Homo sapiens: one gene and its partners. The protein of the gene in region 2 interacts with the protein of the main gene of each other region in a pairwise test. Each region holds a gene or a part of one and is shown on either strand. Other genes may lie near its edges.

Region 1 (6,838 bases), on a different chromosome or scaffold from region 2:
ACCTGTAATCCCAGCACTTTGGGAGGCTGAGGTGGGTGAATCATTTGAGGTCAGGAATTCAAGACCAGCCTGGCCAACATGGTGAAACCCTGACTCTGCTAAAAACACAAAAATTAGCTGGGCTTGGTGGCATATGCCTGTGATTCCAGCTACTCGGGAGGCTGAGGCAGGAGAATTGCTTGAACCCAGGAGACAGAGGTTGCAGTGAGCTGAGATTGTGCTGCTGCACTCCAGCCTGGGTGACAGAGTGAGACTCTGGCTCAAAAAAAAAAAAGTTTCCTTTTTAAAGAAACTGCCAAACTATTCTTCAGAGTGGCTGTACCATTTTACATCCCACTAGCAATGTATGAGACATAAAGTTTCTCTGCATACTCTTTTGTCACTATTTTTTATTTTAGTTTCTAACATATAATTTTGAAAATCAGTGATAGGCATTGAGTTTTATTGATTACATATTTTGGCATTTATTGAGATAATTTCAGTGTGTCTCTTATTGGACCTATTAATGAATTGTATTATTCTATGTATCTATATGTATATGTTTTAAATGATAAAAAGATCAAACAGTATGAAAGGGGAAACAAGGTAAAGTAAATCTCGTACCATTCCTATTAGAGTTTCCCTCCTCAGAGGCAATCACTTTACCTGATTCTTGACAGTGTAGGGACTATATCTGTATGTTAACAGTAGCATATCACATGCACAGTACTGTAGCCTGCCTTTTCACTTTATTTATTTATTTATTTAGAGATGATGTCTTGCTCTGTCACCCAGAATAGAGTGTAGTGGCCCAATCATAGCTCATTGAAGCCTCAACTTCCAGGGCTCAAGTGATCCTCCCACCTCAGCCTCCCAAGTAGCTGTAACTATAGGTATGCGCCCCATGCCTGGCTAATGTATCTTTTGTAGAGATGGAGTTTTGCCATGTTGCCCAGGCTGGTCTTGAATTCCTGGACTCAAGCCATCCTCATGTTTCAGCCTCCCAAAGTACTGGGATTATAGGTACAAGCCACTGCATCTGGCCCATTTAATATCTTACAGACCATTCTATATCAGTACGTAGGGATCTATTCTCATTCTTTTTTACAGCTTGCATAGCATTCTGTTTTTGTTGTTGTTGTTGTTGAGGAATGTGCCAGTTTAATCAACCAGGTCTTTTTTGATAGACATTAAGGTTATTTCCAGTTCTTTGTAATTACTGACAATGCTGCAGTGAATACTCTAGTACACTGGAATTTGTGCCCCATGTAAGCACTAATGTAGGATAAATTCCTGACATGAAATTGCTAGGTCAAGACATTGAGGTTGGAATAGCTGTGCCAAATTGCCTTCGAAGAGGCTCAAACATTTTAAAGTCCCATCAACAATGAACAAGAATGTCTTTCTCTACAATATCTTTTCTTTCTTTCTTTTATGAGACAGAGTTTCACTCTGTCACCCAGGCTGGAGTGCAGTGGCGTGATCTCTGCTCACTGAAACCTCCACCTCTAGGGTTCAAGTGATTCTCCTGCCTCAGCCTCCCAAGTAGCTGGGATTACAGGCATGCACCACCATGCCCAGTTAATTTTTGTGTTTTTAGTAGAGACAAGGTTTCACCATGTTGGCCAGGCTGGTCTCGAATTGCTGATCTCAAGCGATCCACCCGCCTCAGCCTCCCAAAGTGCTGGGATTACAGGCGTGAGCCACCACGCCTGGCCAATATCTTTTCTAATTTATCTTTTCCAATCTGACATCTAAAAAAATAGTATTTCACCGTAAGTTGCAGTTCTTCTATTATGAAGTGGCTCAGTATCTTTTCATTTGCTTAAAAGTTATCTGTATTACTTTTCTATTAACTGTGGGTTCATACCCTTTGCCCATTTAATGTATTATTTAAAATCAATGTTTAGCTAGCAAAACACCGCTTTCCTATTTTCATTTGCTCAACAACCTCCTCAGAGGCAGGAGGTTCCTTCAGACAGGTGTCCCCCGTCCTCTGCAACCAGTTACCTCTTCTAACTCATAAATGCCTCCTTCCCCAACACCACTGTCTGTTCCCAAGGAAGGGCCCCTTTATGGTCTCATCAACATCTCACAGCCCTCCCAAAATTATGTGCATGCTCTCCCATCCCTCCCCTCTGGAGTGCTCTTTTCCCAGTCAAACCTAACCAGTCCTTCAGGGTCCAGCCTAATTCCACCTGTTTGGGCACCTTTCTGAATAACTAGTGCTCACATTGCATACAGTCTCACTTTCAGGCGCGCCTCCTCCCATCAATCAGAGCCTATGTCCCGAGAAGGCTGGGCCTGACAACAGCTGGAGCCCAGCTGCTGCTCTGTCTTTGCTCAGTGTGTGTGTGTGTGTGTGTGTGTGTGTGTGGCCGGGAGTCTGAGTGTGGAGTATGTTTCATTCACTCATCCTGCAGTTTTTTTTTTTAGACTGAGTCTCGCTGTTGCACAGGTTGCAGGGCAGCGGCGCGATCTCGGCTCACTGCAACCTCTGCCTCCCTGGTTCAAGCGATTTTCCCGCCTCAGCCTCCTGAGTAGCTGGGATTACAGGCGCCCGCCACCACGCCCGGCTAGCTTTTGTATTTTTTTGGTAGAGACGGGGTTTCACCATGTTGGCCAGGCTGGAATAGAACTCCTGACCTCAAGTGATTCACCCGCCTCGGCCTCCAAGAGTGCTGGGATTACAGGCCTGAGCCACCGTGCCCCACCCCATCCTACAGTTATTGAATGCGTAATGCATACATGAGTCAGGTGCTGTTCCAGGCATTGGAGACCAGGCAGTGTATGAGGTAGATCAAAGCCCCTTCTCTCATCCAGCTGACATGTTGGAACTAATATACAACAAACAAGACAAACACAAATATCAATTAAATGTAAACAAGTAATGAAATAGCGAGGGAAGGAGGGGAAGGATTTTCTTTGCAGAGGGCTCAGGGAGGGCTCCCCGAGGAGATAAGATAGGAGTAAAGACCCGAATATGAGAGGGTGCCGCCACTGCAAAGAGCTTTGCAGGGCCCCCTAGAGGCCCCGCCTGGCCACCGCTCTTCCAGAGATGGACGTGCTGCCGAGCCCTCAAAACCCCTTTTTTCTGTTACTTGACAGAAACTGAAGGCAAGAGCTTGCGATCCCTGCAACCTCAGTGGTGTGTGGCGGTAACCCTGCTCCCTCCTGTTTCACATCCCAGCTGAAAACTTGGGAAAATGAAATCGCGCTCGGCCTGCCGTTGATAGAGCACCTACTACATGCCATGGTCCGGTTAAGCACTTTATGCGATTGTTACTTCATTTAATCTACACAACAATCCCGTGTGGACTCGATTAACCTTACAGGGGAAGAGAAGGAGGCTGGGAATATGGCAGGAACCTGAGTGTTAACTTGGTTCACACACAAGCGGAGTTCCCGGGTCGGGAAGTTCTGTGGTGCGGGTCGGCTGGGGTTTACTGAGCGTTCGGGCGCTCGCCGTTTTCGGAGTTGGTCGGGTCCAACCGCGCGCCCCGAAGCTGCCCAGGCGCGCCCGCCAGCGGCCCCCGCCAGCGGCCCCCCGCGCCGCCCGGGTCTCCCGGCCTCGGGGGCAAAGGGGAGCGCCGGTGCCAGCAGGCTGGGGGCGGGGAAGGCTCGGGGACAAAGGCCGCGGGCACTGCGCTGGGTTGGCCGGAGCGGCTGCGAACTCCGGGCGCCAGGACCCGGCCGGGCGGTCGCTCCCTCAGGAGCCCGCGCCTGGATGGAGCGCCTCGCGGCGCCGCCGGGCCACGCGCAGGCCGAGCCCCCGCCACCGCCCCCGCCTCCGCCCCTGCCCGCGCCCCCGCCCCCTCCCCCCCACCCCGCGGCGGCTCCGCGCTCGGCGAACATGGCGGCGGCGACGGTCGGGCGGGACACTTTACCTGAGCATTGGTCCTACGGGGTGTGCCGGGATGGCCGCGTCTTCTTCATCAAGTGCGGCGCGAGGACCCGGGGACGCGGGGACGCGGGTGGGGGCGCGGGGGCGGGGGCCGGGCGGGCACCCGGCGGGCTGTGGCGGCGCTAACAGGTGCACCTCTCTGCCCGCAGTGACCAGCTCCGCTGCACGACCTGGCTGCATCCGCGCACCGGGGAGCCCGTCAACTCGGGCCACATGATCCGCTCAGGTGGGCGCCGGGCCGGCGGGTGGGGGGCGCGCGCAGCGGCGGCCCAAGTTTGACCCGACTTTTCTGGCGTTTCCGCAGACCTGCCCCGCGGCTGGGAGGAGGGCTTCACGGAGGAGGGCGCCAGCTACTTCATCGAGTGAGTGAGTGGGGCCGCCGCGCTCGCACCTGTGCCGCGGGGGGGGGGTCCCTCCCCGTTCCCGCCGGGCGCCCCGCCCTTCCTCTGCTCCCGCCGGCCCGGGCTCGTTGGCGCGCGCTGCGCCGCGGCCACACTCAACGTTTTGTGTGCCCAAGTTGTTTGGCGGCCTCCGAGAGGAAGGCGGTGGGGGCCGCACCTACGCTGGGGACCTGGGCCGGGGGGGAAGAGGCCGCAGACTCTGCGCCCTGGACCTTGCAATCCGGCTGGATTCGGGTGCTGGTGTGCGGGCTGGGCACGCCTCCCCTCTAGGGTCTGGGGCTGCGCCCCGCCGGGAGAGGCGAGTGCCGGGACCTGGATGGGCTCGGGTGGGAGGAGTAGAACGAGAAGTTCTGTCCTGGTGTGGGCCTGCGGGGTTGGAGTGGGGAGAGGGAGAGACTAGGGGAATCTCGCTTAGGAGGACGCCCCCTCTCCCGCCGCAGGCTCTGGGATGGTCTTGGAGAGTCGGAACCTCGCCCCCGGCCTCCATCCACTGCGCGGGCCTGCGGGGAGGGAGGGGGTGGGGAAGGGAACTGGTCAACCAATGACTTTCCTCGAGCGCTCCGCGTCTCTTCGGCCGGAGCTGAACCGGGGGATTGCTGGTGCTTCCGTTAGTCCACGGGCGACTTTTCCGCAAAAGCCCCGGAGTGTTGGCGCACCAGCCAGGTTACCCTGGGTCTGTAGGATCAGTCCATGTCAGATTGGGGCGCAGTAAGTGAAGGCGCGGGTCAGGCTCCTATGCCAGTACAGGCTTTGCTTTCCCACTCCGGCGGGAGTCTGTGTTGCAGCGTGTTTCCCTCTGCCTGCTGAGCTCCGGGAGGCCAGACACTGCCTTTGACCCCTTGCCCCAGTGCCGGACAGCAAGTAGGCACTCGGTAAATGTTTGTTCACTGAATGAATCAGCTCGCCAAAGGTCTGGACGGTGGTCTGACTAGTACTGACTGGGTGTACCTCGGCGACTGTGAGTCAGAACTACTACTGTTAGGAATAAAGCAGCCTATTTCAAGAAAACCCCGGAACCTCCTTTTCTGGTTTGGGTTCTTGCATAATAGTTGAAAATACTGATGGGTGAGATTTACAGACCTAAGGACTAGGGCCTTGCTGCGGTTCTATTGCCCTGCCTCATATGTGTGTATGTGAAGTTGGGGAGTTGGCTGGGGCCATCAGAGTCTTGCTGTCAGTGGGCCTCTCTGGCTCATAACTGCATCAGTTGATGTTATTACAATTTTCCTGTGTGCCACACGTTCACACGTTGTTCTAGGCATTGGGAACAAAAAACAGAAAAGTTCTAGGTGCTCATGGAGCTTGCAATCTAATAGGAGAGGGAAGGGAGTAGAAAATAAGTAAAAAACACAAATAATAATATCAGATCGTGGTTACTACTGTGCAGAAAGTTAAAATAAGGTGATGTGACATGGAGTGACTGGGTGGCTTGGTTGTACTGGGAGATCGGGATGGTGTTTCTGAATAGGCAACATTTAAAGTAAAATTTGAATGACAAGAAGGAGACATCATGTGATGATGAGTTGGCAAAGCATTTCGGGAAGAGCGAACAGCCAGGGCAAGGGCTTAAGGCAGAAAAGAGCTTGGAGTTTAAGGAGCAGGAAGGCTGGAATGTGGTGCACAAGGGAGAAAGTGGCATGAGGAGAGGTCACAGGTAGGAGAAAGGTAAATGCCGCAAAGCTTTGTGAGCCGGGGTGAGGAATTTTCATACTTTATTCTAAGCCCAGTGAAACGTCATTGGAGGGTTTTAAGCAGGGAAATGGCATGATTTGGTGTGTGTTTTTAGAACGATCACTGTGAGGAGATTGGATTGTAGGTGGCCACTGCAGGGGGAGGCAGGAGAGCAGCTGAGGCTGTTGCCCTCTTCCAGGCAGGAGTTAGAAGTGGCTTGCCTGAGGGTGGTAGCACAGTAGACAGGGAGTAGTGGTCACATTCAGGCTGTGTTTAGGAAATAGGCTCTTCACACCTTCATGATGGACTGAATAGTCTGTGGGAGAAAGAGAAGAGGCAAAGATGACTCCTCAGGGCTTGGGCACCTGAGTGGATAGCATTCATATCGTTGAGATGGGAAGAGCCGGTTTGGGGTGGAGGAGAATCATGAGATCTTGTTTTGCCATCTTACATTTGAGATATGAGTATGTCAGATAGTGTGATCTGAAGCTTGGTGGGGAGAGAGGACAGAAGAGACCCATTGGGTATAATAGATGTTATTCAAGGCCATGGGATTAGATGAAATCCCCTAGGAAGAGAGTACAGACAGAAGAGAGATGTTCTGAGGCTTTGGATGGTCAAAGCAGTGTTTAGAGGGGTGAGAGGTGAAGCCAGCAAGGAGACTGAGAAGGACTGAGAAGGTAGGAGAAACCCCAGGAGAATGCATGGTCACAGAAGCCTTAAAGGACAAAATCTGACTGGAGTAGGTGGAAGATAAAACACGGGGTGAAGACAGGGAGTCAGTTAGGCAAATCTTCCAGGTAGTTTTGTTGCAAAGTGGAGTTGAGACATTAGCCGGTAATTGGAGAGGATGTGGGTTTGAGGGAGGGTTCTTTTTTTTGGT
Region 2 (7,028 bases):
GAATTTAATTTCCTGTACAACTTTTTGTAAAATGTTCTGCTCCTATTTTAAATGTTTTGAAACATGCTAAATATTCTTTCCTAATTATTTTATCGCTTATACTGCCTTTTTTATAGCTTCAATTAAATAATTGGTTTTATGACTAAAAAAAAAAAAAAAAAAAATTGTTAAGAAAGACCAGGCCCGGTGGCTCATGCCTGTAATCTCAGCATTAATAGGAGTGTGAACTACTATTTTTCTTTCTTAAGTTCCGGGGTACATGTGCAGAACATGCAGGTGTGTTACACAGGTAAACATGTGCCACGGTGGTTTGCCGCACAGATCAACCCGTCACCTAGATATTAAGCTATTACTATTTTTCAATGTTCATAGATGCAATGAAATTCAACCTTACTGAATCTGTAGAACCTCTGTTTCTCACAGCAACAGATACTAAAAGTAAAACCACTCATGTAGAGGTCTTCAAAAACTCATTCTCCCAAGCTTATTGCTGTAGGCTGCTTCAATTGATACATCTTCGGCAACCATGCCAGTACACAGGAAAGGCTAAGTATAGTACTTGCATTCAATTAATAGATGCTCCATCACGTGCTCCTATTTCTCTGTTACGGCTTTTCATTATATTCTAAATCACCCTTTTTCTAAGCAACTGCCAAACCTGTGCTTTGTGTTTTCTTATACTGTTCATATCCCCAAACAGAATTTAAAGTTATAAAGGTAAACAATCAAAGTCAAATATATTCTGTACCCAGAAGAGCTTTGTAAAAGCTATTTCAGTTAAAAGTTGAAGTTTTTTACAAATGTAAAGTAAGATTACTAGAAGTGTGATTCCTAGTTAAGTGTGGCATTACCAGCCTGTGATTGAGCTCAGGAAAATTGTTCACTGTGTGCCAAGGGTTCCTACAACTGCTTTTCAATAATCCTCTCAGAAACTGAACTCAACAAATAATTTTCATTATAAAATACACTATAAAAAGCAGAGCTATAGTTATAGTAAACTGTTGGTTGTTTAAAGGTGATTTAGTTTACCTCAAAGAATTATTCTCTGCTTTTTGTCTGCCAAGTTCACTTTCGGTATCCATTGCCTTTCTTGCTAGTGATTTCATTTCTTTTTCCACAGTGCTTATGGTTTCCTTCATCAAAGTCATATTTGACATTTGCTCCATACGTTCATCATCAAGCTATACAAGTAGAATGACAAGGTTACTGCCATCACTAAAAACACCTTAGTAATCTTCCTGAAGGGCATACTCCCTCTGTACAAACTGGTTTATGGCAAGACTGACAGGATGAGATTATCAGGTTAGACCTGACTGCTGTAGAAGGTTTTACAGATAAGGTGTTGTGAAGTAGGACCAAGGAAAAGCCACTGCAAAGTAAAGCTTATCACAGTATATCAGTCTATATTTTTCAATCTGGTTCAATTTGACTATAGTATAAATATGCTGTTTGCAAAAGAATTTATTTGTTGCCCAACATTAATAAATTACACATATAATGTAGAATTATGAAAACAAAAATTATTTTCTCCTGTCTAGTAATTTTTTTTTTTTTTGAGACAGAGTATCGCTCCATCGCCCAGGTTGAAGTGCAGTGGCGCGATCTCGGCTCACTGCAATCTCCACCTCCCGGGTGCAAGCAATTCTCCTGTCTCAGCCTCCCAAGTAGCTGGGACTACAGGCGCATGCCACCACACCTGGCAAATTTTCATATTTTTAGTAGAGACAGGGTTTCACCATATTGGTCAGGCTGGTCTCAAACTCCTGACCTTAGGTGATCCACCCGCCTTGGCCTCCCAAAGTGCTGGGATTACAGGCATGAGCCACCGTGCCCAGCCCCTATCTCATATTTTTAACTCATTACAATAAAACAGTACAGATGAACTTATAAATATATTCAATTATATTTGGTAATAGAAAGTTAAATTCTCTTATGTTTATATAGTGACAATATCATCAATATATATTCGTAGCAATATCAAATCTGATTAGGAAAAAGGTGATGTTTCACATTTAAATTTAGTTTAAATAAACTTTGCTTATAATTTTTATTTCATCATAATTTTCTCTCCTTATCCACTCTTTAGGTAGAATAAACCATTTTCTTTACATCTGGCAATATTATCTTTAACAAAATATGGAGATGAGAAAGTAGATAAGATCCCTGAAAATGAATGCCTAATGATTTTTTTAAAGTACATACTTTGCAACCTAACACCAAAAAACATTTACTCACATTTTTAGAAGGAAATAAACAAATGAAAAAGTGACAATTTACACTATAAAATACCTTAAGTATTTTAGGACTATAAACACTATCTTAGAAAAATAAAATAACTTCTCTGAATACAGAAAAAGGAGAAAGGGGAAAGCCATTGAGTGTTTATAGCCAAAAGAGACTTTTCTTTTTTTTTTTTTTTACATTATGAACTGTACACTCCAGCTCCTCTATCCTTTGTTCCAGGTGAGCCTTCTCATTAAATGCTGTCTCTTGAGCAATCTGATTAAAAAGCAAAAACAAAATAAAGTGATTTCAATATCCCTGAATTTGTGTTTCACATATATTCACGTAAATAAAATCCTTTCCAACCTTTAGCCTCTCCCTTAGACTATCTCGTTCTGTGGTCATTCTTCGTAAATCAGTAAAGGCTACATCTCTTTCAGTCTCCACTCGCCGGAGAATAGCATGTGCCGTTGTTGATTTAGGACTCTTACAGCTTTTCATCATTTCTCGTCGAAGTCGGGTAATTTCTTCCTGTGCCTATTATTTAAATCATAGACTTTGGTTGAACAAGCTTTAGAACACATAAACATAAAAAATTTTATGTATCTAGCCAGTTAAAATGCAAACCTACATCAACATGCATGCAGCAGGGTAATGGTATCGCTTTTATTTTAAAATAAGCTTATACAAATAAATGAAAATGAATATATTTAAATAGAAGTTCATGTTACAACATCTTTGCCAAAAGTCTAAAATAAAATTAATTTGGAGGAAGTCATTGCAACAGAGAATGTTTTGCTAAGAAATATATTTGGTATACTCCATTTATTCATTTTGTAGTGTAAATTTAAATTCAGCACAATTTAGACAGACTACCGGTTTAATGAATATTATCATAGTGTTTCAGTCTTCCTAAATATAAATGCATATGCCATTCCTATGTCTTGGCTACTTCTGCCCTGACAGAAAGGCCCACCAATCCTTACTGATAACCCAACAGAGTCTCTGCACGTCTGTTCAACCATCCTTGGGTCCCAAATCTATTCCAAACCTGCAGATTATTTAATATCACAGTTCGCTGCACAGGTCTCTTTTCCTCTTGATTTTGATCACTGTCTATTCAGATAGTCTCCAAGCCCCAAAGGAAAATATATAACTTCCCAATTTCCACAGCTAAGCCTTCACCAGAACCCCAAACCTCATCTCCTAAAGTGTCTTCTAAGATCTCCCTGACTCAATTATAATTATTTCTTCTCATCTTGAATAGTACCCTCTCCACTGGCACTTTCTCCCCTGCCTTCAGTCATGTACAGTGCTCCCTTATCTTGAAAACCTGTCACTTGATCCTGCTGACCAATTTACCATCCTATGTCTCTTCTTCCTGCGACACATTAAAAAAAAAAAGTCCCATGGTCTATAACTATTGCCAATGGTTCCTTACCATCCATTCTATCACCCCAGAACAACCTGGCTCCCACCCTCCCACCTTCTGTGGAATTTCAACTAAAGACCTAACCAAATATAATGGTCTTTTCTCAGTTCCTGTTCTCCTTGATATTTCAGTGGTCTGTTGCTGCTCACAACATCCTTCTTCTTGAGATTCCTTCCTCCCTTTTAACATTGTTCCTCCCTAGCTGTCTGTCATCTTTGTCTCTTTCAAAGGTTCCCTTCTGCATCTTGAATATTATAACTTAACGTTTCTGCTCCTCTATGTACAGTTTTCTCATTCAGAGACTTCATCCACTCTGAAGGCTCGAAGCTCACCTCTAAGCAGATGACTTCCAAAGCTAACTATTTAACTCTTGCCTCTCTCTACTCCAGTCCCACATTTCTTACAGTCTGATGGCAATTACGACCTGAGTGTGCTATCATTATCTTACTCTGTCTAAAAACAAACTCACATCTTTTTCCTCAAACCACCAATGACTCTCCTATTTTTTATTTTATTACCACATTGCTGAGTCATTCAAGACAGAATTTTAGTCACTGTCATGCAACCCTCCTTCTTCCTAAAAGCAAATCATGTCAAATCTTCCTTCACAGGGTCTTTTGCATCTGTCCCTATATTTATCTCCATTGAAACACCCTTGCTTAGTCCCTTAATGCCTTATATGTGCACTAGTGTAACAGCCTTCTAAAGAGGAGTCCATGGTCTCTCCCTCCATCAATTCTCTCAAAGGAGAAATTGTTAAATAAGAAGACAGTATAGAAAGATTATGTGAGAAATAAAAATTTGCCATAAGGTTAAAATTGTAAAATTGTAAAAATGATACTTTGTTCATATTTTGCCTGCCTTTAAAAAAAAAAGATTGTTTGTTGCTTATGAAGCAAAATATAAACCCCATATAAGGCCCATTGAACAGCCTGTACCATTTAGTCCAGAAGTCAGCAAGCTATATATAACTCACAGGCCACATCTAGCCTGCCTCCTGTAGGTCTGTAAGTGGAGAAATATTTTTGCATTTTTAAATGGTTGGGGAAAATATCAAAAGAGTATTTTAAAACAAGTAAAAATGATGTGAAATTCAAATTTCAGTATCCATAAAGTTTTACTGTAATACAGCCAAAGTTATTCATTTATGTATTGTCCAAAGCTGCTTTCACCCTACAACAATAGGGCTGATTAGTTACAACAGAGACCACATGGCTTGCAAAGCAGAAGATATTTTTTGTCTGGGCCTTACAGAAAAAGTATATTGATTCCTGCTCTAGTGCAATCTTACCTTTCAAGTCTTAGCTCTCTCCCTTCTCCACTGACACATACCCTCTATTCTAGTCTTAAACCAATTTATTTATCTGCTGATTTTCCTACCTTTATCCTTTGCCTCATACCATTCCTTTAGTTTGGATTGTTCCTTCTAGCCCCTTTCAGGGTAATAGAAACTCCATTCATTTTTCAGGGCTCACACTTTGTATCTTTTAATAAAGATTTCCTTGATCACCATATCTAAAAATGCCCACTTCTTTTGTTTCTTATAATATCTTCTAGACCACTTAATAAAAATCAATAAATACAATATACTTTATCTCCCTAACTAGACTGTAAATTTATAGGAAAACATGGTCAGCATCTTATCATTTTTCTATCCCTTAGAGTAGTGAGCCTAGAACCCTGTGTATAGTAGCTATAATTTGTTAAAAAATTGTGATACTTTTAAAAGAAGTTATATGGGTGATTTATAGGATTTAATACTTGTTGGGTTAAAGAAGGTATTTGATTAATAAAAGCTATGCAATTCTAAGCTAGAAAGCAGAGATAAACTACATACTTCTTTTATTCTCTAAAATTAAGCAAATTATATAAAAGTTCCTAAAGTGATGTGATAAGGTGTGGCAAGTTCAAGGTAAAAAGGTCAGGATTTGATCTTTTTACCTTGAACTCATAACAACTTATCATTTAACGGTTTCTTCATATCTTATTCCAAAAATAAGACTATTTTTATACATGTGTATGATTTTTGGCTATGGGGATAACATACGTGTGTACTCACATACCTACTGTATTGGAAATGTACTACATTTCATTAAGAATATCTTAAAAACATATGTAATCCCCAAATGTTAGATTAACTTGATTTGCAGGTTTAAGCAGTCTCATAAAACTCAAAGAAGAATTACATAACTCTAGAACTCAATGTTATTACTTATATAATTTGTTTTTTGTAAGTTTACCTGTTCATAAAGAAGGAAGATCTTGTCTCTCTCAGATTTAAGAACCTTGACATTACCCTGAATTTCTGCCAAATGGCGCTCATATTTTTCCAGCATGCATTTAAGTTCTTCACGATCTCTTGTTGTTGTCTTCAAAAGTTCTACATCACAGTTTGCACCCTATAATTATATAAGGAATTTGAAATCTTCTTTGATATATAGTACTGATAGAAAGGTGCTACTGATGGTAGTGCCCAATTTCTATTTAAGAAAATAAGACTATATAATGAAAGGAAATTATAAAAAATAAGTTTAAAAACCACATCTTTTTAAAACAGCTTCATTCCAAATTATTCCACATTTGCCTGATTACCTCCCAAGTGCTAATTATGCTGAGGATAAAGAACCAATATCAGTAGTCTACTGTGCCATCAAAGAGACCTCTGTCTCTCAACCCCTTTGAAACAGCAATTCACAGCAAATCAAAACAAATTATTTTCAAATTAGGTAAAACAAAGAATAAAAGCCAGTGTCTGGGCAACAAACTCCAAAATATTTGTAAGTTTATAAAACCTACCCGGGCAGTTGGTGATGGGCGTCTTGGACTTTTAGACCTACTTCGCATCATCTTTCTCAAATGTTGAGCTTCACTCTTATAGTGATCTTTGTCTGCTTCCAAAGTCTTGACAAAGGAATCAAGTCTAGAAGGAGATTTATTTTGTGCTTTTTCAGTATCTAAAATTATCTTGCCAAAGAGGAAAAAATTAGACCATTATTTCAAGCTAAACTATAGCATCATTTTCTAAGTGAAATTGAAAACAAACAGGATCCTTAAAAACATTTAATTTGGTATTTTTTAAATACAACATTTAAAAAATTATATATCAGTAATTTTTAAAAAGCAGTTAGATATCTTTCTTTTCCAGGATTTCTGGGTATGCTATATTTTAACTGAAAGATAATTTTGGAGAAAAAATGGTAAAGAAATTTTAGAGAGGCCAGAAATGTCCACAGACCTAGCACACATCCTAGAAATGGCATGGATTTGCTTTAGAAAAACATATGCTACTAGGCTGGGCATGGTGGCTCATGCCTGTAATCCCAGCACATTGGGAGGCCGAGGCGGGCAGATCATGAGGTCAGGAGTTCAAGAC
Region 3 (7,028 bases), on a different chromosome or scaffold from region 2:
TATTTTTAGTAGAGACAGGGTTTCACCATGTTGGCCAGGATGGTCTCGATCTCTTGACCTCGTGATCTGCCCACCTCAGCCTCCCAAAGTGCTGGAATTACAGGCGTGAGCCACTGCACCCAGCCTTCTTCTTTTCATTATAACCTTTATACCACAGTAAGCTGTTGCATCATTCAAATGACTCTGCATCCTATATTGAATATTCTCCATTATTCTCTAATATCTTTGGGGGTACCCAGGATTACAGGGTTCTGGGCATACATGTTAATGCTTTTGCCAGGACTTTTCTTTTTATTGTTGTGACCCATTGTCTTTGCTTATATTTAAAGTTTTTGATCTTGATATCATTGGTTCTTTCCTAAGTCACTTTTTCTGGTAACTGCTTTGGAATGAATCATACATATCTCACTTACGGAGCCTTCCTCTTTCTCCTCCATTTTTCTTGTCTTCATTTTTCTATTTTAAAGCTTTTATTATGGAAATTTTCAGAGTACAGTGAGAGAGAGACTAGTATGATAAACCCACGTCGAAGTCGAAGTTACGGCTGAGAGCGGCAGCTCACACCTGTCTCCTAACTTTGACTTTTTTTTTTTTTTGAGATGGAGTCCCACTGTCGCCCAGGCTGGAGTGCAGTGGTGCGATCTCAGCTCACTGCAACCTCCGCCTCTCAGGTTCAAGCAATTTTCCTGCCTCAGTCTCCTGAATAGCTGGGATTGCAGGCACCCACTACCAAACCCGGCTAATTTTTGTATTTTTATTAGAGATAGGGTTTTACCCTGTTGGCCAGGCTAGTCTGGAACTCCTGACCTCAAGTGATCCACCCGCCTCAGCCTCCCAAAGTGCTGGGATTACAGGTGTGAGCTGCCGCACTTGGCCCTAACTTTGACAGTTAACTTTATGCCATGCTCAGTGGCCCATGCCTATAATCCCAGCACTTTCGGAGGTGGAGGCAAGTGGATTGCTTGAATCCAGGAGTTCAAGACCAGCCTGGGCAACATAAGACCCCTATCTCTACAAAAAATACAAAAAAAAATTAGCGGGACGTGGTGGCATGTGCCTGTGGTCCCAACTACTCGGGAGGCTGAAGTAGGAGGATCACCTAAGCCTGGGAGGTTGAGGCTACAGTGAGCAGTGACTGTGCCACTGTACTCCAGCCTGGGTGACAGAGTGAGACCCTGTCTCAAAAGACAAAAACACAATTAACTTTATACTGTTCTTGTTTTATCTCTTTCCTCCTTTTGTTGTTGTTGCTGTTTATGATGGAGTATTTCAAAGCAAATTGTAGGCATGTCATTTCTTCTGTATATATTTCAGTATATGCCTCTAACAAGATACAATATTAAAAACTATAATATCTTTACCACTTCAAACAAAGATAACAATAATTTATTGTATTCTCTAATAGTCTATGTTCTTTTTTTCCTCCCCCTCAAAAATATCTTATGGTTGGTTTGCTAGAGTCAGGATTCAAACAATGTCTGTATATTGCATTTGTTTAATACTTCTCTTAATTCTCTTTATAATAGTCCTTTTTTTTCAGTATGGTTATCTATTTAAGGAACTGGGTTTTTTGTTTTGTTTTGTTTTTGTTTTTGTTTTGAGACTGAGTCTCACTCTGTGGCCCAGGTCAAGAGTGCAGTGGCGTGATCTCGGCTCACTGCAACCTCTGCCTCCCAGGTTCAAGCAATTCTCCTGCCTCAAGTCTCCCAATTAGCTGGGATTACAGGCACCTGCCACCAAGCCCCACTAATTTTTGTATTTTTAGTAGAGACGGGCTTTTACCATGTTGGCCAGGCTGGTCCCAAACTCCTGACCTCAAGTGATCCACCCACCTCGGCCTCCCAAAGTGCTGGGATTACAGGCGTGAGCCACTGCGCCCGGCCAGGAATTGGGAGTTTTTGTCCTAAAGATTTTCCCACATTCTGGTTTTGGCTGATTGACTCCTTTTGTTAATATTAATTTCTCTATCCACTGTATTTCCTAAAAACTGGTAGTTACATTTAGAGGTTTGATTAGATTCAATTTTTCCCCCTTGGCAAGAATATTTCATAAATGGTGCTCTTGCTTCCTATTACATCTCATCAGGAGGCACATGACAATCAGTTGATCTTAAGATTGACTGGTAGGTTATGTAAAGGTTTTGGCAACCATTACTGATCATAGCCTAGATCTATTTTTCATTAAGGCCTGCAAAATGGTGATATCCTAATTCTCTTGTTCCCTCTGTGTTTATTATGATTTTTTTTTTTTTTGAGGTGGAGTCTTGCTATGTTGCCCAGGCTGGAGTGCAGTGGCACCATCTCGGCTCACTGCAACCTCTACCTCCCGAATTCAAGCGGTTCTTCTGCCTCAGCCTCCTGAGTAGCTGGGACCACAGGCAGGTGCCACCACGCCCGGCTGTATTTTTAGTAGAGACGGGGTTTCACCATGTTGGCTAGGCTGGTCTTGAACTCCTGACCTCAGGTGATCCACCCGCCTCAGCCTCCCAAACTGCTGGGATTACAGGCATGAGCCACTGCGCCCGGCCTAATTGTGATTCTTTTATACAAGAAATACTTCTCTCATCAACCATAGGGTTGCCCTGAAATCGTCATTTCAGGAAAACCATCTCGTTTTTCTTTTACCTAGTACACATTATTATTCGAGCAAGCCAACCCACAGCACCTAGCCTTTTCTTTTTTATATTTGAAACCTCAGAGCTTTTCTCTCCTGTATTGGTAAATATCTTTAAAATTCTCCACGTTACCCAAATAAATGCCAGATGTATGAAAATTTAATTCATTCAGCGGCTAGTTACCACATACCTAGTATGTGTGGGGCATTCTGCAGGGTACTAGTTATACAATAGTAAACAAAATATAGTCTCTGCCTCAAATAGCTTATAGGCAGAATTAGGACCTTCATAACTATATATATGGTGCTGGAGTTGCACTGTACAGTGAGGTTAGGATGGGAGAAGTGACCAATTAATCAACCGGCAATTTTTTTTTTTTTTTTAATTTTTTAGACGGAGTCTCACTCTGTTGCCCAGGCTGGAGTGCAGTGGCACAATCTCGGCCCACTGCAACCTCTACCTCCTGGGTTCAAGCAATTCTCATGTCTCAGACTCCTGAGTAGCTGGGATTACAGGCGGCCACCACCACACCCAGCTAATTTTTTGTATTTTTGATAGAGACGGGGTTTCATCATGTTGGCCAGGCTGGTCTCAAACTCCTGACCTTAGGTGATCCACCCGCCTCGGCCTCCCAAAGTGCTGGGATTACAGGCATGAGCCACTGCGCCCAGCCTAAACTGGCAGTTTTTAAGTGTAGTACGTTCCAGTCTTGGGAGAAGTCAGAGAATATGTTTTAGAGTTTAAGTTGAGATGGGAGGGATGAATAGACATCATCTTGATGGAGAAGTAGGAGTTGGAAGAATATAACAGGCAGAAGGACAGCAGTGTGTACAAAGGTAGAAGGTAAGGGAGTAGAGGGCCTCTGTGGAACTGTAAATAGGGTTGAGTGTGATGGGACATGGGATGAAGAGATGGGCTGGAGAGGAAAATTGAGAGCTGGAAAGATAAGCTAGTCTCTTGAAAGGTCTTACAAGGCATGATTTTATCCTGGGGGCACTGAAGAACCACTGCATGGTTTGAAGTAGGGTATGACGTGATCAGATTTGTGTATTCAGAATATCCAGTAATAGTACATTTGTTCCCTAGAACCTAGGCACAAGTCTTGGAATTGGCCTCAGAGCATCCATGTATAATAGGTGCTGCCCACTTACAGCCTCAGGGAGACAGCATAACACAGGCTGCCTAAAAAACGAAAGACCTGGGTGTGGTGGATCATGTCTATAATCCCAGCACTTTTGGAAGCTAAGGTGGGAGGATCACTTGAGGCCAGAAGTTCGAGACAAGCCTGGACAACAGAGCAAGATCCTGTCTCTACAAAAAGTTTTTTAAAAAATTATCCAGGCATAGTGGTGCATACCTGTAGTCCCAGCTACTCCAGAGGCTGAGGCAGGAGGATCAACTTGAGCCCAGGAGTTCGAGGCTGCAGTGAACTATGATTGTCCCACTGCACTCCAGCCTGGGAGAGATCCTATCCCAAAAATCAAACAAAAAAAGGAAGTATGGTCTTCACTCCAGGAAGGCACAAAACCCAGTTTCATAATGGAAGCCCAAAACACTTAGAAAAATATTAACAACACAAAAGGGAAAGTGCTGTCCTGGATGTAGCTCAAAATCCTGCACTGTCACTTTTTCCTCATGGGTTTTTGTATATTTACAAACATACCCTCTGTCTGAGCCTCACTTCTTTTGTGTTTTCTTCACTTTTAGCATTATTCTCCTCCTCGTATCACAGGCATTTCCACTGCTTATCCCCTCCTTTTCTTTCTTCACTAGTTTGGGTCCTCCAATACCTTCAGTTTTTTTTCAAGCTGTGAGGCCCTCAGGGTTCCAGGCTTAGGCCTCTTCCTCATCCAAGGTCTAGGTAATAACTTGCTATTTCTCCAGTGAGTGAGGAATGTTGATTCCTTAAGAACTTTCAGGTGCCAGAGAAGGTGAAGGCTATTTGCAACACATGTCCGTTTCACCTTTTTTGGAGATCACCAAGCAGTATGGATCAAAGTCTACTGATGAACTTGTACTTCCTGTAAATATGCTCTAAAAATAAAAATAGCTTATCAAGAATATCAGAGAACAACCAAATCTGTTATCAGAAATTTTCATGAGAGGCTGGGTGCGGTGGCTAGCACTTTGGGAGGCTGGGGTGGGAGGATCAATTGAGCTTAGGAGTTTGAGACCAGCCTGGGCAACACAGGAAAACCCCATGTCTACAAAAAATAAAATAAAATTAGCTGGTCCTAGCTACTTGGGAGGCTGAGGTGAGAGGATCACTTGGGCCCAGGAAGTTGAGGCTGTAGTGAGCCATGATCTTGCCACTACACTGCAGTCTGGGTGACAGAGCCAAACTCTTTAAAAAAAAAAAAGAAGAAAAATTACCATGGGAAAAATATCAGAAACTACAAGTCACCTCTCTGGTTCAGGTGGACAATCTCTATTTTCCCTCATTATTGTGCCACATCTGAGAATTAGATGGAGGACTCATTGCACAGGCCCAACTGGGAACCCCAGGGCTTTTGGGCTGTCATACTTACTAAAGGTCATTCTAAATGGGGCTCCATATTTACATTGAGTTCACATTCTTGAACTCAAGAACCAGTATAAGAGATTCCCAGCTAGTTTTGACTACCTCTTAGAATGCTTTCCAAATCAAGGCACAAATAGAAATTACAAATTCTATAATATTTCTCATAAAGTACCTTTGCTAAGTTTGACTGCAAAGATCTGGATCTTGGCCTCCATTAAAAACACACTATTCTTAACTTTCCTGCCACACAGCATCAAATGGAATATGTGGTTTCTTTAAGGTTTAATTTTTTCTTTAGATTTTGTTTAAAAGTCTTTAAATTCCATATAATTAAACTCTTAAAAAAAAGTTTTTTTGGTGGATACAGTGTCTTACCATGTTGCCCAGGCTGATCTCAAATTTCTGGCCTCAAGCAATCCTCCTCCCTCAGCCTCCCAAAGTGGTGGGGTTATAGGCATGAGCCATGGTGCCCAGCCCAATCATTAAATTCTACTGTATAAATTACCTTCATCCAAATTAGGATCACCAAGTAAATACATCTCAAGCTGAAGAATTTATTTGATTAGATTTTAATAAGTTGTTTTTGTTCTGAATTTTACTGAATTGTTCCCATCTCATTTTTGTGTGTCTGAAAACAGTCTCAGTCTGTCACTCAGGCTGGAGTGCAGTGCAGTGGCATGATCATAGCTCACTGCACCCTTGAACTCCTGGGCTCAAGTGATCCTCCTCCCTCAGCCTCCCAAGTAGCTAGGACTGCAAGCATGTACCACCATGCTTAATTTTTAAAATTTTCTTGTAGAGACAGGGCCTCACTGTGTTGCCCAAGTGGGTCTCAAATTTCTGGTCTCAAGCAGTTCTCCTGCCTCAGCCTCCCAAAGTGCTGGGATTACAGATGTGAGCCACTGCACCCAGCCTCATTTTGTTTTTATATTAAAATGGAAGCCAATTTCATTATTTCAAAACTCCTTTGAATAGAGCCTTGTGTATAGAGTAGAATGTTAGTGGTAGTTGCCATTATGCAGGAGTCCCTTAGGCTTATCATTCTTTTAAGCCCAAGGAACCCCTAGATCTTTTATGAGTGGGTTTCAGCTCTCATATAGTACTTATAAAGGAACAGCTCCTCTTCCTATTTCCTTCTCCTACTTGAGCCTTCAGCCTATCCTTTGGCTGACACGTATAAGATTTTGGTTCCACCATTTCTGTTTTCCCTGTAAGTTAGAGATTCCTCTGTCACTGACTGATGAGTAGGTAACTACACAAACAATAGTTTGGCTTATAGACTCAGAATATTTGATTGCCAGAGTTAAAATGCCAGCCTTATGACATGGCTAAAGTGCTGTCCCAAGGCCACAGTGACATCTATCAGTCCGTGCATGTGTTTGCTTTGGAAGTAGATAGCCTTCATTCACCCCTGTAGTGCATTCTCCATCCTCCACTCTTAATACTTTTTACTATGAATTATTTTTTCTATAATTCAACTGTAACCTATTCTAGATTTGCTTTCAATCTTTTACAGTTACTAAACCAAGGAGATTTAACTGAAAGACGGACATGAGCGTGGGTGCTGACTCCTGGAAGAGCAACTCTATCTGATCTCAAAATGCGTATACTGGGAACAGGATGCCTTAGCCCACAACAGAACCAGAATGAATCTTTGAAGGCACAAGACTCTGCTTTTGCCACTCTTCCTCTTTCCTGGTATAGAAGATGGATGTAGGAGAGCTTCTTTTCTAACTACCATCTGATCAGACAAGGAATGAAGCAATGACTGTGGGCTGGGAAACTGTACCTACCTCTCTTCCCACTGCAAATTTCTGGGATAGACCAAAAGTGAATTTGATTATGTGTTGGCTGAAGTTCTTCATTCTGACTGTTGAGGGGAGGTTTTCCTTT
Region 4 (7,028 bases), on a different chromosome or scaffold from region 2:
AATATTAAATATAAGATTTACTTTTTGAGAATAATAAAATGAATACCTTCATGTTCCTCTGTGTCTTCTTTCTCCTTCCCACACCCACCCACTACCACGTATTTTAAGATTATAATGTATGGTATTTATATAGGACTACCTGGCAAGGCATAATCCTTAAAGACCCTTTTCATGCATTAACTCATTTAATCCTCACAATAACCTTCTGAGATTGGCATTAATATTTCCTTTTTCAAATGAGCAAAATGAGGCACAGAGAGGTTGAGTCAAAGTTCTCTAGCTAGTAAATGACAGTATCTTAATGGGCTTTGGATTTAATGGGTTTTGCTGTTCATTTGTTTGCCAGATATTAGAAACAATCTTGTATTCATTGTTATATGCTGTACATGGCAAATGTTTCTCTAGAGTGCAGTTCTCGAAGTATGGTCTCACAACCCTTGGAGATCTCCAAGACCCTCTCAGAGTCTACAAGATCCTTCTGTAATGACCACGTTTGTGGTAGACTAGATCTTTAATAAGTCAAACAAAATAACATATCCAACAGAGCGAATGCAGAACTAGATAAGAGAATCCAGCATTCTTTTTTTAAAGCAAACATTAAAGAGATCTGCAGAAATGTAAAATAGTGCCATTCTTTTCACTAGATCTTTTAGAGTGTAAAGGGGTCCTGAGAGAAAAAGTTTGCAAGGGGCAACTCTAGGGCAGTGATTTTTCTTTTTTTTTTCCAGACCAGAGGCTGGGCTCTGGATTACAGCTCAGTAGTGGGTCATGGAATATGTACTGTGACTCAACCCGTATCATTTTCAAGAAAGAAGAGAGAGAAAATCGTTCAGCAAATATAACTGAATGAATTATCTGGTTCACAGAGTATGTGCGTCTTCAGCTTTACTCGGTCATACTAAATTGTTTTACCAAGTGATTATACCAACAACCCTCTTTATTTTATGTCCTCTTAAATGGATGGTATCGTCCCACTTGTAAATTTTTGCTGTGTGTGTGAAATGGTATCCTATTTTCTGATTTGTGCACCTCTTATCATTGGTGAGTATGCACCCTGTTTTTTTCAAACCTTTACTAGTGTGTGTGTGTGTGTTCTTCTGTGAAATACCTGTTCATGTCCTTTGCCTGTTTTTGTCTGTTAAGACTGTTCCAGAGACATCTTGGCTGGTCTTTGATATCTTTCGATTAATAGTTGTTGTTACTTTTAATGTAAAATTTGTTAGTCTTTTTATAATTAGTGATTTCTGTTTAAGAAATTCTTCCTTTCTCCAAGGCCTTGGTTGTATTCTTCTATATTTTTTTCCTACTTATTTTAAAGTTGAAGCCTTTTATGTCCTTAATTTACTTGAAATTAATTTGTATGCTGTGAGATAGGGATCCAGTGTAACGGTTTTACTTAAAATACACAATTGTCCCCACACTACTTGTTGAAAATTCATCCTATCCCCAATGGTTTGCAATATGTTCATTTCCATATGTGTATGGGTGTGTTACCTGGCTCTTTGTCCCTTTGTTGTATTTGTCTCTCCTACTTAGATACCCACTTGGAGGTGGGGGGGTCATTTACCTCCTTGTTACTCAAGAGAAATATTAGCTATTGTTGGTCCTTTGCTTTTCTTCAGTAGAAATTCTGGAACCTGCTGTTGGAATTTTGGTTTAGATTTTATTGAATTTCTAGCTTAATTTGGGTGTAACTGATACGTTTAGGATATTGACCCTTCTGTCTGAATGTTATGTTACTCCATTTATTTAGAACTTTAACATTTTTCAGTACTTGTATAATTTCATGTCTTGTATATTGTTCAGTTTATTTCTAGTTTTTAATTGTGTGATATATATTTTCATAAGTTGCATTTTCTAATATATAAAATTACTGACTCTTACATATCTATTTTACTCAGCAATCTTCCAGACTTAATTCTCATAATTGAGGATTTTTTGTTTTGTTCTATTTAGTCATGATACGAAATTGGGATTCTTCCTTTTCAATCTTAATAGCTGTTATTCTTTTTTTTTTTCTTAGTGTGCAGACTAGGGAAATGAAGTACAATGTTGACCAGAATTGATGTAGGTATCTTTGTCTTACTCCTGATTTTAAAAGGAATATTTCAAGTTTTCCACCATTAAGTATGTTTGCCATCTTTTCTTGTAAAACTTCATATTATCATAAGGAAGTAAGTTTTTTAAAAAATAATGGCTGGATGTTGAATTTTATTGAATGCTTTTCTACATTTGTTGACGATCGTATTGATATTTAGTTTGGAACTGTTGCATTGATTGCACTGCTCAGAGCTGTACATCATGTTCCTCCACCATTGGACCTTGACTTCTCCAATTTTATTTCCTCAACATGTGTACACAAACTCTTTTTTTCAGCTAAACTGATGTATTCATTAACCTGGAAATAATTGCCTTTTATATCCATTTCTAGCTTGCCTATCAGAATACATGTCAATCTACAAGACCCAGTATCGATTTCAGCACTAATAAAGACCTTCCTTTACCATACTGTTTTGAAGCAGTGTTCTGTTGAATGCATCTGAATTTAATTTGCACTTAGTCTCTATTACATCCAATTTACCAGTTCCCACCTACTGTTTTGTATTTGAGTTTTATCTAGGTAATATCTTGCAGCTGTGTTGCATGTGCCACTTATAAAGAAAGCAAGTAATATGCATTTTTAAATTATGCTTCATACTTCACACAGTGTCATAAAAAGATGTTCAATAAATATTTGAATTATGTGTTCCTAAATGAGATATTTGCCCTAAGAACTAAAGGCTGCAGGAAAAGCTAGTGATCAGGTTAAACATTTTGCCTTTAATCCTGAAAGTTTCTCCTACAATCATATTTTGGTTGGAATAATTTTTACTGAATGCTTAGGGTCATGGAGAGATTAGTGGATTGGGAGTTAGAATTGGGCTCCTTTCTACGCAGCCTTCCTATGATATTTGTGCTATTTGTTAAATATAAAGAAGCCCAAAAGCTTTTGGTGATCTCTTAAAGGGTTGTAGTGATTTTGTTGAAAAGGATAATCTTTTATAAGTAATGTGCAGTTTCCTGTTTTGCGGAGGAAATGTATAGTTAATATTCAACAGATTTATTGAACATAATAAAACTCCTTTATTAGAACTTAATTTCTCCAGCAAAAATTCTACACCAACTGGGTGTACTACAATTATTTTAATTCTGACACTGCCCAGATGTTGCTCAGACCCCCATACATTAAGGGGCTCCGTTTCACAAGACTGCCTGCCCCCAAGTCAGTCAGAGTTCGCAGAGCATCTGCATTTCTGCTCAGCTGACTACAAATTATGGGATTCCTGCAGCTTTCCAAGAACGGCTCACAGTACTCAGGAAAGACTGTTCTTAAGCAATTTCAGTTTTATAAAGGACACAACTCAGAAACAGCCAAATGGAGGAGACATAGGGCAAGGTGTGAAAGGGCTTCTGTATCCTCTGGTGCAGCACCTTCCCAGCATATCAGTATGTTCAACAATCTAGAAGCTCCCCAAACCTCATTATTCAAGAGTTTTCATTGAGCTTTCATTACATAAATACATAATTGAGTAAATTATTGTCCGCTGGTCACTGGGCTCAATCTGTCCCTTACCTCCCCTAAGGTCAGGGCCTAGGGCTGAAATTTGTGACTCTTCCCCCCCACCCCACCCCCCTCCCAACACACACACACACAGACGGAGTCTCACTCTCTTGCCTAGGCTGTAGTGCAGTGGCCCAATCTTGGCTCACCACAACCTCCACCTCCTGGGTTCAAGTGATTCTCCTGCCTTGGCTTCCTGAGTAGTTGGGATTACAGGGCACACCCCCACACTTGACTAATTTCTTTGTATTTTAGTTAGAGACAGAGTTTCACCATGTTGGCCAGGCTGGTCTCGAACTCCTGACCTCAAGTGATCCGCCCAGCTCGGCCTCCCAAAGTGCTGGGATTACAGGCATGAGCCACCATGCCTGGCTGAAATCTGTAGCTCTTTATAATCTAGTGGTTGGTTTTTCTGGCAACCAGCTTCCAGAAGATGCCTTCAAACCTGAAGCTACCTAGGTGCCCTACCTTGAGTCCCTTCATCAGCCTAACAAGGATACCCTATCACTTAAGAAATTCTAGGAGTTTTTGAATCTGTATCTGAAACCAAGGACAAAAGACTAAATATATTTTTTATTATACCACAGGGCATACAGATAATAAAAATGTATATGTCATGAGGAGTGATATAAAATAGTAAAGGGCAAGCCCACTAACATACAAAATGTAGAACAGAGGTAGTTCCATTTGGGGAACTAGTTTGTTAGTTAATCACATAGTTAATGGGATTCCCCTGACTGGGCAGAGGGTGGTCGGCAAGTCACTTAATATTTTTGAATATTAAATGATAGGATTCTGGTGGGTTGTAAATAACCAATGAAAACTTGAGGTTCTCTGTGACATTTAAAATTAAGCTATGCAGTAATTGAGGATGCTTTGCAAGACCTTTGACAATATTATAAAGAATTGAAAACTCATCCTATTTTCCAGTTACCTGTAAAACCAGATGCCAATTTGCCATTAAGTTTGGAAAATGACAAATACTAGTCTTTGTTATATATGAACATACTATAGTAGACTTAGCACTTATTTATTTGAGTACCACTTTTAAGACTTGGCCCTACCCTCCTAAGCTCTTTGTCCCCACTTTTGATTGTCATAGCCATAGTGTGTTTTATATTTATATAAATAGAAAATGTTTTATATTTGCTTTCTTAAATCACCTGGAAATTTGCATGATTTTTAACATGGAAGTAAAATCTTTAATTTTAAATAAGATTTAAATACAGTGCAGGTATTTCGATAGCCTTTGTTTCAGGAGATTGTTTACTGTTTTAAATATTCATTGTGCTCTTGTACTTTTATGAACACGGATTATTCTGGTAAATGTAAATCTTCAAAGGTAAGAATTGAAAAACATAGTTTGCTGTGGCCGTTTGAGGAAGGAAAGTGGATGAACATTTTGAATAGCTGGTAGTCATATCTTCCACCTTAGCCCTCAGCTTCTTAGTTACTTCCCCCAGTCTAGGACCATCTGTCAGTAGGAAGTCGCCTACAACAAATAAAACTCCACAGTTAGCATCTCCTGGGTTGAAATTATTATGTGGAATCCTAAATTTAACAGAATCTCATTCATGACAGAATGGTGTACTGTGGAAATAAAGTTTTATGTTTGAGTGTTTGATGGGCCTTAATGTTTTCTAATTATTTTCTTTTTTGTTAATTAAATGTAAAGTATTTGAGGCAAGGACAGTGCCTTATTTTCTTTCTGGAGTTTTGAATACTATAAATATTCAAGTAGTAGTTTGTGGATGGGGAATAGAGTAATTCAGTCATTTGTAGCAGTTTCTGGTCCTGTAAAAATAATGTTTTTATTTTTCTGAACGTATATTTCACAGTATATATTTTTAACTGCGGTATTTACATTCATTGTATCATTTAAGTATTTCTGCACAGCATTTGTATTCAAGTTGTATGAACATTATTTTCTTCTTGTGTCTGGCATATGGCTATATTCAGACTAATATGAAACACTTTAAAAGTTGTATTTCTTTAATGATTGAATTGTATTGTTTCTAGTCAGTGGATTTTTTCTGTTGTCTGTATGGACAGTCAATCTCAGTCATAAATATTTGTGATTTAAATCTGCTATTTGTGGTTCACACTTTTGAAAGGTAATTTGTGTCTTTATTTTTTAGAACAGCTTTGCTGAGCCATCAAGGTCTAATGGAAGCATGGTTCGGCATTCTTCATCTCCATATGTAGTATATCCTTCGGATAAGCCTTTCCTTAATAGTGATCTACGACGCTCCCCAAGTAAGCCTACACTTGCCTATCCAGAAAGCAACAGCAGAGGTAATCGAGCCTAACGAAATAAATGTTATTTGTGTTTTCTTGCTGCTTTAAAATTCTTAACTTTGTCCTCCATTATTTTGCCATTAGAGGAAAATATATTTCCCCTTTGCTTCCAGTTTCAGCCCCCAGAAAATATTATGCTTTTCTTGTATTCCTTATATTGATTGTTGAACATCATCATCCACCAAATTACTGATGCTAAAACACTTTGAGTCATCAGTGACTGCTCTGTAATCCCCACTATTAGTCCGGAATGAAGACCTTTTTTTGCTTCTGAAATATACCAAAAGCATACTGTTTTTTCTGCCTTTTTGTGTTCTCATTGCTTTGGTTCAGGCTTTCATCATCTGTAGCCCAGATGTTCATAGTACATTCCTCATTAATCTCCCTGCCTGTTTTCTCCTCCTCATCCCCAGTTAACAACATTTCTGTCATTTGTCATTATCCATCATCTCTCCCACAAAATTAAAGCTTTAGCATCTCTTCATAGCTTACATAATAAATTCTTAATTTTTCATAACCTAGACCCTATATGCCTCACCAGCTTCATCCCTAACTTGTCTTCTGTTTTTTCCTTTCCCATCCTTTGCTCTGGCTACTTTGAAATACATTTATTCCTGGAACCTGCCATCTGTATTAGTTTTCTTGTCGCCTTAACAAATTGCCATGAACTTAGCTTTAAATATTTGTTATCTCAGTTTTCTGTAGGTCGGAAATCTGTGTAGGCTTATCTGGGTCCTCTGTTTAGAGCCTTACAAGGCTGAAATCAAGGCTTTGCTTGGGGCTCTGTTCTTTACTAGAGGCTCTGGGGAAGATCTGCTTCCAAGCTCATTAAGATTCTTAGCCAAATTCAGTTCCTTGTCATTGCAGTACTGAGATTCTGTTGCTTTGCAGACTTTTACTTGAGGACAGTCTTTGCTCCTAGAAACTGTCCTCCTTCCTTCATGTTTCCCTTATTGTCTCCTACGGTAACAGTAGGTAGTCTCTCATGTTTCTTTTTTTTTTTTATTTTTTATTGTTTTTTTGGAGACAGAGTCTCACTCTGTCACCAGGCTGGAGTGCAGTGGCGGGATCCCGGCTCACTGCAACCTCCGCCTCCTGGATTCAAGCTATTGCTATTCTCTTGCCTCAG

What was found.
Region 1: the proteins of TSGA10 (region 2) and PLEKHA7 interact in binary tests that used the Homo sapiens proteins (3 or more experiments, as listed by UniProt).
Region 3: the proteins of TSGA10 (region 2) and ZNF410 interact in binary tests that used the Homo sapiens proteins (3 or more experiments, as listed by UniProt).
Region 4: the proteins of TSGA10 (region 2) and CEP57 interact in binary tests that used the Homo sapiens proteins (3 or more experiments, as listed by UniProt).

Annotation. Positions count from the first base shown.
Region 1 is NC_000011.10:17,011,396-17,018,233, reverse strand, and holds the start of PLEKHA7 (pleckstrin homology domain-containing family A member 7), read left to right. Parts: upstream 1-3,819; 5' UTR 3,820-3,832; coding exon 3,833-3,918; intron 3,919-4,032; coding exon 4,033-4,109; intron 4,110-4,187; coding exon 4,188-4,245; intron 4,246-6,838. UniProt on the Homo sapiens protein: Required for zonula adherens biogenesis and maintenance. Acts via its interaction with CAMSAP3, which anchors microtubules at their minus-ends to zonula adherens, leading to the recruitment of KIFC3 kinesin to the junctional site.
Region 2 is NC_000002.12:99,102,938-99,109,965, forward strand, and holds part of TSGA10 (testis-specific gene 10 protein), read right to left. Parts: intron 6,620-7,028; coding exon of another isoform or gene 6,503-6,619; coding exon 6,452-6,502; intron 6,055-6,451; coding exon 5,896-6,054; intron 2,761-5,895; coding exon 2,590-2,760; intron 2,500-2,589; coding exon 2,422-2,499; intron 1,182-2,421; coding exon 1,030-1,181; intron 147-1,029; exon of another isoform or gene 1-146. UniProt on the Homo sapiens protein: Plays a role in spermatogenesis. When overexpressed, prevents nuclear localization of HIF1A.
Region 3 is NC_000014.9:73,924,852-73,931,879, forward strand, and holds part of ZNF410 (zinc finger protein 410), read left to right. Parts: intron 1-2,255; coding exon of another isoform or gene 2,256-2,377; intron 2,378-6,651; coding exon 6,652-6,690; 3' UTR 6,691-7,028. UniProt on the Homo sapiens protein: Transcription factor that binds to the sequence motif 5'-CATCCCATAATA-3', and is specifically required to silence expression of fetal hemoglobin in adult erythroid cells.
Region 4 is NC_000011.10:95,793,493-95,800,520, forward strand, and holds part of CEP57 (centrosomal protein of 57 kDa), read left to right. Parts: intron 1-728; exon of another isoform or gene 729-1,041; intron 1,042-2,023; exon of another isoform or gene 2,024-2,049; coding exon of another isoform or gene 2,050-2,067; intron 2,068-5,739; coding exon 5,740-5,896; intron 5,897-7,028. UniProt on the Homo sapiens protein: Centrosomal protein which may be required for microtubule attachment to centrosomes. May act by forming ring-like structures around microtubules. Mediates nuclear translocation and mitogenic activity of the internalized growth factor FGF2, but that of FGF1.